Linked DNA regions of Homo sapiens. The protein of the gene in region 2 interacts with the protein of the main gene of each other region in a pairwise test. Each region holds a gene or a part of one and is shown on either strand. Other genes may lie near its edges. The genes, in order: PRKCD and CARD11.

What was found.
Region 1: the proteins of CARD11 (region 2) and PRKCD interact in binary tests that used the Homo sapiens proteins (3 or more experiments, as listed by UniProt).

Annotation. Positions count from the first base shown.
Region 1 is NC_000003.12:53,177,972-53,185,237, reverse strand, and holds part of PRKCD (protein kinase C delta type), read right to left. Parts: intron 6,835-7,266; coding exon of another isoform or gene 6,816-6,834; coding exon 6,701-6,815; intron 5,662-6,700; coding exon 5,462-5,661; intron 4,032-5,461; coding exon 3,971-4,031; intron 3,795-3,970; coding exon 3,632-3,794; intron 3,538-3,631; coding exon 3,506-3,537; intron 2,118-3,505; coding exon 2,032-2,117; intron 1,787-2,031; coding exon 1,657-1,786; intron 365-1,656; coding exon 264-364; intron 1-263.
Region 2 is NC_000007.14:3,040,756-3,048,378, forward strand, and holds the start of CARD11 (caspase recruitment domain-containing protein 11), read right to left. Parts: upstream 3,113-7,623; 5' UTR 2,912-3,112; intron 1-2,911. UniProt on the Homo sapiens protein: Adapter protein that plays a key role in adaptive immune response by transducing the activation of NF-kappa-B downstream of T-cell receptor (TCR) and B-cell receptor (BCR) engagement.

The DNA.
Region 1 (7,266 bases), on a different chromosome or scaffold from region 2:
AAGTCTTAGTTCAAAGTGTTCCAACACCCACTCCTGTGGTCCCCAGGTTCACCCTCAAGTAAAGAACTGCCTGAATAATGAATTTCTTATGAAAAAAAGCCCCCCTCCCTCTGCTGCCTAAATTCTTGAGTTGCATCTTCCCGAAGTAGAGTCCTGGGTCTAAATATATCCTGGCTGTCTGTGGCTCCCCAGCAGTGGCTGTAAGCCTTGACTGTCCCTGACCCCACTGCCCTGTGTCCAGGGTCCCCATGGCACCTGCCCACCTGGGTGACTTGGTTCAAGGCCTCAGCCAAAAGCTTCTGGTTGATGCCGCAGAGGTTGGCCACCTTCTCCCGGCATTTATGGTGCACATTCATGCCGCAGTCTGGGGTGAGGGAGAAGCGGGGCTGTCAGTCTCAGAGCTCAGCCAAGGGCAGGGGGCAGTGTAGGAGAGGCGCAGGAGAGCAAGAGAAAGGAGGGCTTCAGTGGGGTCTGCTGGGTTCCAGTTTCTAGGAAAACATTGATCTGAAGCCATCATAAATACTTCGATCTCTCTCTCTCTCTCTCTTTTTTTTTTTTTTTTGAGATGGAGTTTCCCTCTTATTGCCCAGGCTGGAGTGCAGTGGCGCAATCTCGGCTCACCGCAACCTCTGCCTCCTGGGTTCAAGGGATTCTCCTGCCTCAGCCTCCTGAGTAGCTGGGATTACAGGCATGCGCCACCATATCCGGCTAATTTTGTATTTTTAGTAGAGACGGGGTTTTTCCATGTTAGCCAGGCTGGTCTCGAACTCCCCACCTCAGGTGATCCACCTGCCTCGGCCTCCCAAAGTGCTGGGATTACAGGTGTGAGCCACCACGCCCGGCCAAGCATTTCAATCTTTCATGATTTTTGTTGTTGTTGTTGTTGTTGTTGTTGTTGTTGTTGAGACGGAGTCTCACTCTGTCACCCAGGCTGGAGTACAGTGACATGATTTCGGCTCACTGCAAGCTCTGCCTCCTGGGTTCACGCCATTCTCCTGCCTCAGCCTCCCGAGCAGCTGGGACTACAGGCGCCCGCCACCACGCCAGGCTAATTTTTTTGTATTTTTTTAGTAGAGACAGGGTTTCACCATGTTAGCCAGGATGGTCTCGATCTCCTAACCTCATGATCCGCCCGCCTCGGCCTCCCAAAGTGCTGGGATTACAGACGTGAGCCACCGCGCCCAGCCAATCTTTCATGATTTAAAGAAAAAGGAAAAACCAGAAGACAGGGACCTAATTCGAAACCCTTTAAAGAACATCTGGTCAACTTAAGCCGCTTTCCCTCCAGGGTCTTCTGTCTCATCTCTAAGTGAAGCAGAGGGCAGGGGAGGCCTGTCTGGGCGCCTGTCGGTGTGCACCAGGCCTGGCTTCAGCACCCTCTGCCCACTGGCCCCTCACAGGGACTCTCTAGGTCCTGCTTTTCTCCTCCAAATGGCTCAGAGGGGTGGAGCCGCCCACCTGTGGTCACACAGCAGGTAAGTGGCAGAGCCAGTCAGGCCAGTGGGGAGGGTCCACCAAGGCCTCACCCTCATCAGGTCCCTGAATGAGGTGCCCGTCTCCAGGTGAGGAGGCGAGGGTGGCGTGAGGTGGCTGGAATTCACAGCAGCACCAGCTGGGAGTGCCCCTCCTGCAGCCCAGGGGCGGGGTGGCACGCACCTTCACACTTTAATCCCTGCTTCACCAGTCCCCAGAGCAGGCTGCCGCAGTGGTCACAGAAGGTGGGGCTCATGTAGTTGTGAACCTTGAAGCGGTGCGGCATGTCGATGTTGAAGCGTTCTTTCTGGAACTGGAGGTGGGGGTATCACAGGCTGAGGGTCACGTGCCAGCTCCAGCCTCTTCTTCAACCCCTAGCTCTCCCCCAACCCTGGGCACAACAACATCCCAAGAGAGCTCCACTGGGAGAGGCAAGGAAAGACTAAGAAAAATGGGGAGGGAGGGTAAGCTCCCCAGGGAGGGTGGGGAGAGGGTGCAAATCCCTCCCATCTGGCCAAGCCCCCCAGATCCCCAGCCCTGCCCCGGACCCAGGCTCACTATAGTGTCCCGGCTGTTGGCCGCGGTGCCAGTGCATCTGCCGATGATCTTGTCGATGCATTTCTTGTGGATGGCAGCGTTACATTCTTGAAGAGGCACAGGCCCAGGAGGGGGAAGGGAAAGCACCGGGAGGGGCAGAGTCTATGAGCTGGTGCCTGCCGACCAGTCTAGCCCTCTACACAAAGCCACCGTTCTCCTGACCGCCCACACCCTCACCCCGCAGAGGCCCAGCGCTTGAGTCTTCCTCCTGCCAGCCCTCGAAGGAGGAGCCTGGAGAGGACGGGGCGGAGAGGACAGGCCAATCTGCAGGGGCTTAGAAAGAAGGAGTCCTAGTGGGCAGGGAGGTGGGCAGAAGTTAGCGGGCACAGGGCATCGCAATATGAGAAGCGGGGGCAGTTCTTCCAAGCCCTGGGATAGCAAACGGCTCCTAAATGCCCTCTCTTACACATGCACATGGACACGCCTCAAAACAGACACCTGTACATACACACAAAGCATGTGTAATAATGATAACAGACTTCTTACACAGAGCGGCTACCAGTGGAAGGCACTTAAAATACAGCTTTACATATCTTATTCCATTTGATCTTCACAATGACCCTATTATACATTATAGTTATATCTAATTTATAGATGAGGGCCAGGCACGATGGCTCACGCCTATAATCCCAGCACTTTGGGAGGCTGAGGTGGGTGAGTCACTTGAGGTCAGGAGTTTGAGACCAGCCTGGCCAACATGACAAAGCCCCTATTCTACTAAAAATACAAAAATTAGCCGGGCATGGTGGTGCACGCCTGTAATCCCAGCTACTCAGGAGGCTAAGGCAAGAGAATCGCTTGAACCTTGGAGAGGGAGGTTACAGTGAGCTGAGATCGCACAACTGCACTCTAGCTTGGGCAACAGAATGAGACTCAGTCTCAAAAAAAAAAAAATTATAGATGAGGAAACTGAGGCACAGAGAGGTTAAGTAACTTTGCCTAAGGCCCTATAGCTAGGAAGTGGTAGAGCTGGGATTCAAACCCAGGCAGTCTGACTCCAGCCTGCGGCGCCTCGTGTATACACCCTCAGGGACAGAGTGTGCTCACACCTGTGTACTCAGAGACACCCACATCTACACAGAAGCACATGCAGCCACTATGTGCCAGTAAAGGACCTATCATTGCCTCTCCGAGGAAAAGAGGCCTGGTGCATGGCCTGGGCTGGTTTCTGCGTGAATACTCTACTGTGCCCAATTGCCATCCACCAACTCCCCGTCACTGAATGCGGAGCTGGGAAGAGATGCGCAGAACTGGTTTTCCAGAGCAGCAGCAAGCCAGCCCCAGCACTCACTGAACTCAGCTGCTGTATCTACACTGGGAAAACTCACGTGCATACACTCTCTGAGCGCACACAGGCACTGGCATACACACAGGCACTGGCACACGTGAGCACACATGGGTACATACGTACAAACTGGCCTGTGGAGACACTTACGCCTGCATTTGTAGCCTTGCTTGTTGAGGCCCCTGAAAGGCAAAACCCAGGCAAAGTGAGTGAGCGGGGACCGGGATCGGCCCCCACTACCCTGCACCACCACCAGTGGGCATGGCCGGTTCTCACCAGACAAAGTCTTTGCACACAGAACAGAAGGTGGGTTGCCCAAAGAAGGTGGCGATAAACTCATGGTTCTTGATGTAGTGGATTTTGGCCTGTTTGATGGCTCCGCGGCGGTTCATCGTTGGGAACTTGGCCTCGTCCTCACTGCGCATAGACTGTTTGCAATCTGGTGACCATGGAGTAGGGAAGTCAGCCCTGGTATCTGGAAGGGGTGGCACCCCTACAGTCCCTCCCAGGGTGGTCCTGGACAGCTCTGCCGAAGGGAGCAGCTTCCCTACACCTCAGTGCTGGCTCTGCCTCTGAACCCGGCAAGGGAGCCCTCCACCCCCAGGGAGTTCTTACCCACGTCCTCCAGGAAATACTGAACAGACATCAACACCTTGGCCTGAGGCTGCAGGTCCAGCTGTTGGGGGCCAGAGGCCAGGGGAGAACAAGGTCAGTGAGGGCAGCCTGGGCCAGGCCAAACTCAGAACCCACCCCCATGGCTGGTCCCCCAAGGCCAAGGCAGCCCCCCAAGGCCTAGCCAGACACTTGTCTGCCCAGTGTGGGCAGGGCCCCGCCTGAGCCCCACTCCTGAGCCCCACCCCCACCCTGTACCCAGGGGTATTATTACATTTAGGGAAGTGAAAGGGTCCAGCCCACACCCAGCCCAGACACATAGCTGGGGAATAGAGCGGGAAGGGAAATTCCCCACCCCTACCCGCTGCAGCTCCCTTAGCAAGGATCTTAGAATGGAGGCCCCTACCCGTGTGCACATGCGGAGAGAGACAGACACACAGACACACTCATCCTCGTGCACACACGCTGCTCCTCCCTCTGTGCCGAGGGCTCCTCATGCAGATTGGACAGTCTCGAGGGTGGGACCTGAGCCTCTATCCCCTCACCTCCCCCAAGACCTAGACCTGGTGACTGATATCCTCCCTTGGGGGAGCGGAGACAGCACAGCCAGAGGCCCCTCTGTGTCCCTGCCTGACTGGCCAAGGGTCAGTACAGCCCTGTGTTAACCTCTCTCCCATCCCAGCCCCCTCACCCCTCGCAGGAGGCTGATCAGAGCCTCCAATGGTCACAGGGCCTTTCCTGGTGGAGACATCTTGGTTACATCCCACATGTAACCCCAGGGGACTTCTGCCAGCACTGGCATCCTGTGGCCACCCAGAACACACAGCTGCACATGGCCAAGTGGCCACATGCTTGTGCAGAGTCTCCATTTCAGCAGGTAAGTAGATGAGACCGTCAGCCTCCCCTTCTCCCACCTCCTTGCTGTTAAAGATCACTATGTTGCCCCCTCAATGGCTGCCAAGGCCTAGAATATATGCGAAGATTCCAAAAAGAACTGGGATAATGGGTGCCTCTGGGAAGGAGGCCTGGTGGCCTGGTGTTGGGGCAGGGACACACCCTTTCATGCAGTTAAAAATGTTTTACTATGTGCATATCCTGCCTTTCCAAAATTAAAAAGGAAAAAGTAGTCACAATAAGGAAGTTGGCCGTCTTTAGCACCTGCTATGTGTCAGGTTCTGCAATAAGCCCTGTACATCCAGCTGCTCCTTTCATTTGAACAACTGACCCTGAGGTAGGCACATTTAGTAGCGCCTTCCCTTAACAGATGCGGAAGCAGAAGCTCAGAGAGGCTGGGAATCTGGTGAATTGCAGAGCCAGGATTCACACCCAGGACATGTTGGCCACAGGGCTGGACTGGTGGCCAGCACAGGGCCCGGTGCTCTTCAGCTGTGCTCACTGACCAAGCCCGCGTGTGTGCACGCACACACATGCACGCATGCACACACACACAGACACACACACACACACACACGGCACGGCTCGTGCGCCCCTTACCCAGAACTCAGCCTTGCCATTGTTCTTCTTGCAGCGCTCGGCCAGCACCGACACACCCACGGTCACCTCAGACACTGGCTCCTCTGCTGCCCGCATTAGCACAATCTGGATGACGCGCCCCTCATAGATGTGGGCATCGAACGTCGACTTCCACTCAGGATACATGGTCGGCTTCTTCTGCACCAGTGTTTTCCCACGCTCTGCAACAAGGCCAGGCAGAGAAGGTTGGGCCATGGCCCCTCTGTCCCTCCCTCGTAGACCTCCACGGCCTTCCCCTGGCAGAATCTGCCCGACTCTCCTGCCTTGAGGGCCTGCTGTGGTTCCCCAGTGTCCTCTAGAGCACAGAACTACCTTGGGCACCCTGCTAGGTCCTCCCTCCAGGCCTTTGTTCCTGCTGTTCCCTCTTCCTCTGATCCTCTTGCTCCAGCTCCATTTAAATGTCGCCTGCCCTTATGCATTCATGCAGGGAACATGGGCTGACAGCTCCTGCATGCCAGCCATAATATTCGAGGCGCAGAACACAGCTGAAAGAAAAGCTACATCCAGGGCCTGTCCTCCTGGATCCCCAGGCCCGGGTGGCGAATGCACCAACTCCTTCCTCAAGTAACTGTTAAGTCACAGTTGTGATGAGACTGAAGAGGGCAAGGCTGGTAGTGCTACAGGGTCAAGCCTAAGGGTCAGGGAAGATTTCCTAGAGGAAGGAACAGTTCAGCCGAGACCTGAGGGACAAATAGGGGTTCACCAGGCCAGGGCAAAAGCAAGAGGGAATGATGTGAGGTATGTGCTTCCTCCAGGAAGTCCTCCCTGACCTCAGGTTCAGAGGGTGCCTTCTCTGGGCTTCCCTATTGCAGGACTCACTGCTTTTTGACGTGCCTGGTTTCCCCACCTGACTATGAACCCCATGAGGGCAGGGCCAGGTTAGTCCTGGAGCATGACAGTATCCTCAGTGCCCCGCACAGGCCCTGGCACAAATGGACATGTAAAAATTGCTGGGTAAAACAACCAGGGAGGAGGAACCAGAAACTCCAAGCCTTCCAAGGAGGGCTCAATTTGGCCAGTGTTTGCAGCCCTATAGCGACTCAGTGGCCTCTGCCTTCATAGCTGAGTGGGGCAGGGAGTCAAGGATGAGGAAGAGCAGAATCCTTCAGAGGTTGCAGGGAACAAGGCCAGGCCCCCTCCAGTCCTTCCAGCTGGGCCCAGATTCCCAGCCCCTCTCCAGGGTCCAGCCTCCAGGCCTACCTGTGCTGAGCGCCTCCTTCATCTTCACGGCACAGAAGGGCTGGTTCGCCTCGTCCTCGGCCTGCAGGGAGCCCAGCTCATAGGAGTTGAAGGCGATGCGCAGGAACGGCGCCATGGTGGGGCCTGCAGTGGGGCTGTGCACACAGAGGGGTGAGGCCAGGCGGCCGGGCGGGACCAGCGGGAACAGTCACGGGCAGCACTCAGGGACCCGCTCCCCCAGGGCTCTGCTATGATTGGGTTTGGCCCACATGATGCACACACACACTAGTCTCAGTTGCCAGTGTTAAAAACTGAGAGGTTTGCCAGGCGCAGTGGCTGACGCCTGTAATCCCAGCACTTTGGGAGGCCAAGGTAGGCAGATGGCCTGAGGTCAGGAGTTTGAGACCAGCCTGACCAACATGGTGAAAAGCCATCTCTACTAAAAATTAGCTGGGTGTGGTGGTGCATGCCTGTAATTCCAGCTACTCGGGAGGCTGAGGCAGGAGAATCACTTGAACCCGGGAGGCGGAGGTTGCAGTGAGCCAAGATCGCACCAGTACACTCCAGCCTGGGTGACAAGAGCCAAA
Region 2 (7,623 bases):
AGGAGCTACAATCACAAGTGCGTCTTCAACTCCACGGCCTCTGCCAGCCACCACCAAGCCACAGTCACACAGCCCCTCAGTCCCAGGAAGCAAGCCTTTTATCGGAAGGGTCCAGAATCACTGCATAGGATAAAGAAGTCCAGACACTGCCCCTCTTTTTTTTTTTTTTTTTTTTTTTGATACAGGGCCTTGCTCTGTAGCCCAAGCTGGACTGCAGTGGCGCCATCTTAGCTCACGGCAACTTCCGCATCCCAGGCTCAAATGATCCTCCTGCCTCAGCCTCCCAAGTAGCTGGGACTACAGCTGCACACCACCATGTCTGGCTAATTTTTTGGTATTTTTTGTAGAGACAAGGTCCCGCCATGTTGCCCAGGCTGGTCTCGAACCCCTGGACTCCTAGAACCTGGGCGCCCTCTTGTGACCCTGCCAACCCCTTCCTAGTACAGTGTCCACAGGTGGCTGTCCTGTCCCATCTCCCAGCTCCACACCCCCTTTTGGTGGGGATGCCCTTCCTCCCTGAGATTTTCAGCACCATCTCGGCCTGGAACCTTCCAGGAATCCCTGGACCTTCTGAGTCCTACCATCACCCAAGCTCACTCCCTGCTGCCCTTCCCACTCCTCCTAATTCTTTACCATCTCATGTGTGTCTCAGCCACACTCTGACCACGGTATACACAGACTGTGTGATGAACCTACTCAGGGTGGAGCGCTGCTTCTCACATCCCTCCTGAGCCCCCTGCGGCACCAAGTACAAAGCCACTCACACACGCCCACTGATGGATTTAAACAAGCGTGTCATCTTTAGAAGAGCTTGGTTTAGAAGTCTTTTTTTTGAGACAGAGTCACGCTCTGTCACCCAGGCTGGAGTGCAGTGGTACGATCTCAGCTCACTGCAACCTCCGCCTCCCCAGTTCAAACGGATTCTCCTGCCTCAGCCTCCTAAGTAGCTGGGACTACAGGTGTGCGCCACCACGCCGGGCTAATTTTTTGTGGGTATTTTTAGTAGAGATAGTGTTTCTCCACTTTAGCTAGGCTGGTCTGGAACTCCTGTCCTCGGGTGATCTGCCCGCCTTGGCCTCCCAAAGTGCTGGGATTACAGGCATGAGCCACCGCGCCCGTCCAGAAGTCATTTTTTAAAATCACATAAAGGATGAGCGGATACACAAAATATGGTCTATCTGCACAATAGAATATTATTCATCCTGAAAAGGGAAGGAGATTCAGTCACAGACTACAACACAGATGAACCGTGAGGACGTGAGGCTCAGAGAAATAAGCCAGGCACAGGAAGGACATAGGTTGTATGAGCCCCCTTATATGGGGTCCCGAAAGTCATCAGATTCCTAGAGACAGAACGGGGAAGGGTGGCTGCCAGGGGCTACGGAGGGGGCCAGGAAGCTGCTGTTTAACGGGGGACACAGTTTCAGTTTGGGAAGAGCTGGATGGTGGTGATGGCCGCAAGATAACATGGACGGGCTTAACAGCACTCAACTCTGCGCTTCAAAGTGGTTCAGCGAGCTCATTTTATGTCACATGTATTTCACCACGATTTTTAAAAAAATCACATCAAGGACCATTCATGCATTAACAGAAGACTGCTGGGGCCAGTGGAGCCACGGCCTGCCTATCTGATACCCAGGCAAGTAACATCCACACGGGTCCAAGCATTCCCTGGCCTTGAATTACGCTGAGTCCTGGTCACTGTTGCGCTCCTCAGGGCAGCCCTGGCCTGAGGCAGGGGTGTCATCTCTTTACAGATGCCTTGCTGGGGAGAGAACCGGAGTTTCCGCGAAAGCGCAGAAGTGGACACTTACGGAGAAATTCCTGTCCTCATATCAATTCCCGGCTCCCGGGATTTCCGGCACGCATTATGCACAGGCTGAGCGCTCAATAAATGTGGAATGAACGATCGACTATTTTTCTCCCCTTTCTGGTAGGTTGGTAACCTTATACCTTCAAGACGAGTCATAAATATTAGGAGAAAATGTTTTGAACTACAAATCAAAGGCTTTGAGAGCAGGCCAGGCAGAGAGAGGTCAGTTTGGTCCAAGACCAAGTTTGTGTGGGCAGCCCCGAAGCTCACAGCTGAGACCACTGTCCATGAACCTGGGTCCCCGTGACAGCCTCCAGCGGTGCTCAGAGCCCCCGAGGGACAGAAACACCCTCTCTGCCCCTATCTGCAGAGGGGGCTCAGCAGAAGGCCTGGTGGCCCCATCGGGCCTGGAGGGGCCTCCTGGGGGAGGTGGCTTTCAGGCCTGAGGCCGCTAGGACCTGCTCCGGGTTTCAGTCGGGAACCTGGGCCCTCTCCTGTGCCCCCGCCACCCCCTTTCTAGTACAGTCCCCGCGGGGGGCTGTCCTCTCCCATCTCCCAGCTCCACACCCACTTTTGGTGCGGCTGCCCTTCCTCCCTGAGCCAGGCCCCACCTTCCCAGGAGCCTCTGAGTCAGGCTGGGCTGTGGTCTGCAAACTTCCGGGCCTTTCAGGTGTCAGAAAAGTTTCTCTTCCTCCCTCTGGGGCAGGTGCACCAAGGGGCTGCAGCCTCCTGACCCCCGATTTTTTCCTGTCCAGTAGGAGGAGGTGGGGGCTTTGCTGGGCGGTGATACTCAGAGACGCTCAAAGAGACACGGAGGAGAGGCACACGAGGTGGAAAGTGAGGGAGAAAAAGGGTTGGAAGGGAAAAAGGGGAGAGGAGAGTGAGAGAGAGAAGGGGGGCAGGGGGACAGAGATGGAGAGGGAAGGATACCCCCAGCATCGCGGGACCAGCGGGAGCCACTCCCATCCCCCGACGCCCCCCCCGCCACCGTGTCATCTCACTGATGCCCCCCATCTCCTCCCCGTGCCCTCTTCTCTTCCCCCAACTCCCCGCCTCGTGCTCCCCCTCCGCCAGCTCCCCCATCCCCGCTGCGCCTACCTGGGGCGCTCATGCTCCGCCAGCCAGCTGCGCGGGGCGCCTCCTCCACGCAGGCCTCCGGCTTCCTCCAGGCGACCAGGCCCTCCGTCCCCCCGGGCCCGGAGCCGTCCTCCGAGGGGCGCCGCCCGCCCAGGGGCTGCAGGGCCGGGAGGGGGCTGCGGGCGGCGCGGGCAGGAGTCCGAAGGCCAGAGGAGGCAGGAGAGAAAAAAGGAGAGAAAGTATGTCATAGGCTGGGAGGGGCGGGGGAGGGAAATGCAAAACCCGACAGGAAATGAGACTAAAAAATGCGAAAGGTTAGAAAAAGATAAGGAAGAGAGGGAGGGGGCGGAGTCGGTGCTTCGGGAGGAGGGCGGCAAGGAGGTGGGGGTGGGAGTGGGGACAGGGCCGGGGGTGGGGGTGCTTGGGGACAGATCAGGGAGCCGGAGATGGGGAGACCAAGGCGAGTCTCAGGGCCCAGCCCACCTGCATCAGTCGGGGTGAGGCTGGACCAGTCTGGGCATCAGTCCCCACCCAGCCGTGACCCCCGGCAGAGTCCAGGTGGGGCCTTGGGAGGGGCTCTCTCCCTTCTAGGTTCTCCAGGGCACTGGCTCCCGAGATCTAGCTGAATTTCTGAAGAAATTCCAGAGCCTGTCACTGCAATGGGAGGGGAACGGGGTGCCCCACATCAAATCCTGCAGCCTCCTACACCCCAAGCCTCTTTCCTCCCTCAGCCCCTGTTCTGGAAGCTTCCTGGGCATGCCGGGTGGTCAGCACCCCTTCAAAGGCCTTCCTCACCCCGACAGCTTTGGGGTCCAAGACACCCACCATCAGCTTGTGCCCTCGATGTTCCGGTGAAGTATACTTGTAAGAGAAACTGTGATTTGGATGTCATCATTTTACTTTATTTTTATTTTTTGAGATGGAGTCTCGCTCTGTCACCCAGGCTGGAGTGCAGTGGCACAATCTCAGCTCACTGCAAGCTCCACCTCCTGGGTTCAAGCGATTCTCCCACCTCAGCCTCCCGAGTAGCTGGGACCACAGGCGTGCACCACCAAACTTGGCTAATTTTTGTATTTTTAGTAGAAATGGGGTTTCAACATGATGGCCAGGCTGGCCTCGAACTCCTGACCTCAAGTGATATGCCCACCTCAGCCTCCCAAAGTGCTGGGATTACAGGCATGAGCCTCTGCGCCCAGCTGGATGTCATCATTTTAATAATTTACCCCAAATGGCCATCGTCATGGGTGGGATGGTCCCAAGGGTTTACATGGATTGCAGACTCAAAAATCTGGATGAAAGAAAATGTGATACACACACACACGCCATGCAATACTACTCAGCCATAAAAAAGAACGAAATAAAGTATTTTGCAGCAACTTGGATGGAACTGGAGGCCATTATCCTAAGTGAAGTAACTCAGGAGTGGAAAACCAAATACTACATGTTCTTATTTAAAAGCGAGAGCTAAGCTATGGGTAGGCAAAGGCAGGCAGAGTGGGATCATGGACGTTGGAGACTCAGAAGGGGGAAGAATGGGAGGGGGTAGGGGATGAAAAATCACCTATTGGGTACAATGTATACTGTACAATGTGCACTATTCCAGTGACTGATGCACTAAAAGCCCAGACTTCACCACTATACGCTTCATCCACGTAACCCAAAACCGCAAGTACCCCTAAAGCTATTGAAATAAAAATCTGGATGAGCCATGCCTACCCAGAAAACCTTAGTTTCTATTCTCTTGCTGCAATTGCACTGCCTCCTGCACCGCCCGCCCCCCCGTTGCCCCAGCCTCTGCACCTCTCATTCTACTCTGCCTCAGTTTACCATTCTCCTCTCATCTATCTCCCTCTCTTTTGATCCCCTCATTATGGCTAGAGAATGTAGGCTTCTGTTTCATGTTTTAAGTGTTCTGAGAAAAGTTCCTCGAGCTGCTAGAAGGAAAGGCCTTCAATAAATTAAATTTTCAGCAAGACAATAAATAAAAAATGGGACATTGGTCCAAGCACGGAAGAATCTGAAATACCAGTGAGGAGTCTGTTTGCACTGATGCACATGTGCTAGGGATGAAGGAAGACACGAGTTTGCTTCCTGTAAAGCGTGTTCAGAAATGCAAGCAAGGGCCGTAAAGAAAGTTTCTAAAATGAACACCAAGACCCACAGCCTTCTAACACCAAGACCCACAGCCTTCTAGGCCTTGGTCCCTAAGGATACATCTCACTGCCTACCTGGGACTGGGGAAGCTGCTTGTACTCCATGAAACCTCTAAATCAGGCAGTGGCATTTTATTTATTTATTTATTTATTTGGGATGGAGTCTCACTCTGTTGCCCAGGCTGGAGTGCAGTGGCACGATCTCGGCTCACTGCAACCTCCACCTCCCGGGTTCAAGTGATCGTCCTGCCTCAGCCTCCTGAGTAGCTGGGATTACAGGCACGCACCACCACACCTGGTTAATTTTTGTATTTTTAGTAGAGATGGGGTTTTACCATGTTGGTCAGGCTGGTCTCTAACTCCTGACCTCATGATCCGCCCACCTCGGCCTCCCAAAGTGCTGGGATTACAAGTGTGAGCCCATGCGCCCGGCAAGCATTTTATTTTATTTCATTTTATTATTTTTGAAACAGGGTCTCGCTCTGCTGCCCAGGTTGGAGTACAGTGGCTTGATCAAGGCTCACTGCGGCTTTGACCTCCTTGGCTCAAGCCATCCTCCCGCCTTGGCCTCTCGAGAAGCTGGGACTACAAGTGCACGCCACCACGCCTGGCTAATTTTTTAATTTTCTGTAGAGATGAAGTCTCACTATGTTGCCCAGGCTGGTCTTGAACTCCTGACCTCAAGTGATCCTCTCGCTCAGGCCTCCCAAAGTGTCAGGATTACAGACATGAGCCACGGCATCTGGCCTGTCATTTTAAAGAAGAGCTCAGATTTCCCTCCTGCAAGATACGAAATGAGGGCAGTGCCTTAAAACAATGAAACATGTCTGTAGAGATATGTATGCAGTAAAGTACACAAATGCTGCAAAGTCCCATGAATTTTTGCAGCAACTTGGATGGAACTGGAGGCCATTATCCCAAGTGCGAGTGTAACCCACACCCGCACTTCATTCTATCAAAACATGGAACTTTATCTGCACCCCAGAAACCCCCTTGTGTCTCGTTTCAGTCACTCCGCCACCAAGGGTAGGCACATTCCTGCCTCTGACAGCATCAGTCAGTTTGCCTGTTTGTGAACTGCATGTAAACGGCAGCATGCATGCGTTCTTTCGGCAGCCTGGTCCCTTTCACTCAGCGTTATGTTTCTGACTTTTATAGATGGGACTGCATGCGGGTCTAGTTCATTAAGACAAGCCTGTTTCTCCTCCAATATCTTATTAAAAATTTTAAATGTTCAGAAAAGTTAGAAGAACCATCTAGTGAATCCGCATATACCCCACCACTTGATTCTACAACTAGCATTTTGCTATATTGGCTTTATCACAGATCTATCCATCTATCTCTCCATCAATCCTCTCGTCCTTTTTGTTTTTTTTGTTTTTTTTTTTTTTTTTGAGACAGAGTCTCACTCTGTCACCCAGGCTGGAGTACAGTGGCACGATCTCGGCTCACTGCAAGTTCCGCCTCCCGGGTTCATGCCATTCTCCTGCCTCAGCCTCCCAAGTAGCTGGGACTACAGGCGCCCGCCACCATGCCTGGCTAATTTTTTGTATTTTTAGTAGAGAGGAGGTTTCACCGTGTTAGCCAGCATGGTCTCGATCTCCTGACCTCGTGATCCACCCGCCTCGGCCTCCCAACCTCCTGTCCTTTTTTCTGGGTGTATTTCAAAGTAAGTTGCAGACATCATCAGTACACGTCACTGTTAAACACTCCATCATGCATGCCATTCACTAGAGAGGTTTGTTTAGGTGAAATTTACAAACAGATTTTAACCATATGATGCAGTGAAGCTGGGGATGGTGGCAGGTGCTTGTAGTCTCAGCTACTCCAGAGGCTGAGGTGGGAAGATTGCTTGAGCCCAAGAGTTCGAGGCTGCAGTGAGCTGTGATTGCACTACTGCACTCCAGCCTGGGGGACAGAGCAAGACCCCACCTCAAATACATACATACATACATACATACATACATAAATGATTTAAAAACTATATGATGCAATGAGTTTTGACAAATGTACATATTGTGTAAGCCAAGCCCTTATGAGGACATAGAACGGTGTGGTCCAATGTGACAGCCACTGGCCACATTTGACTGCTGAGCACTTTGACAGGAGGCTGGTGAGAATAGGAAGCGAGTTTTTAATTCTCTTCCATTATTATTATTATTATTAGAGAAGGAGTCTTACTCTGTAGCCCAGGCTGGAGTGCAGTGGTGCGATCTCGGCTCACTGCAACCTCCACCTCCCGGGTTCAAGCAATTCTCCTACCTCAGCCTCCTGAGTAGCTGGGATTATAGGCGCCTGCCACCACGCCCAGATGATTTTTGTATTTTTAGTAGAGACTGGGTTTCACCATGACGGCCAGGCTGTTCTTGAACTCCTGACCTCCAGTGATCCGCCTGCCTTGACTTCCCAAAGTGCTGGGATTACAGGCATGAGCCACTGCACCTGGCCAATTTTAATTATTTTTAATCTAAATCCAAAAACTAACACTTGATTTTGTTATCGAAAAGCTTTTAAGTACGTCTGGAGCAATTTGAGCATGTTCACCTACTTTTTCAACTGTAAAGTTAATGAAATCTAAAT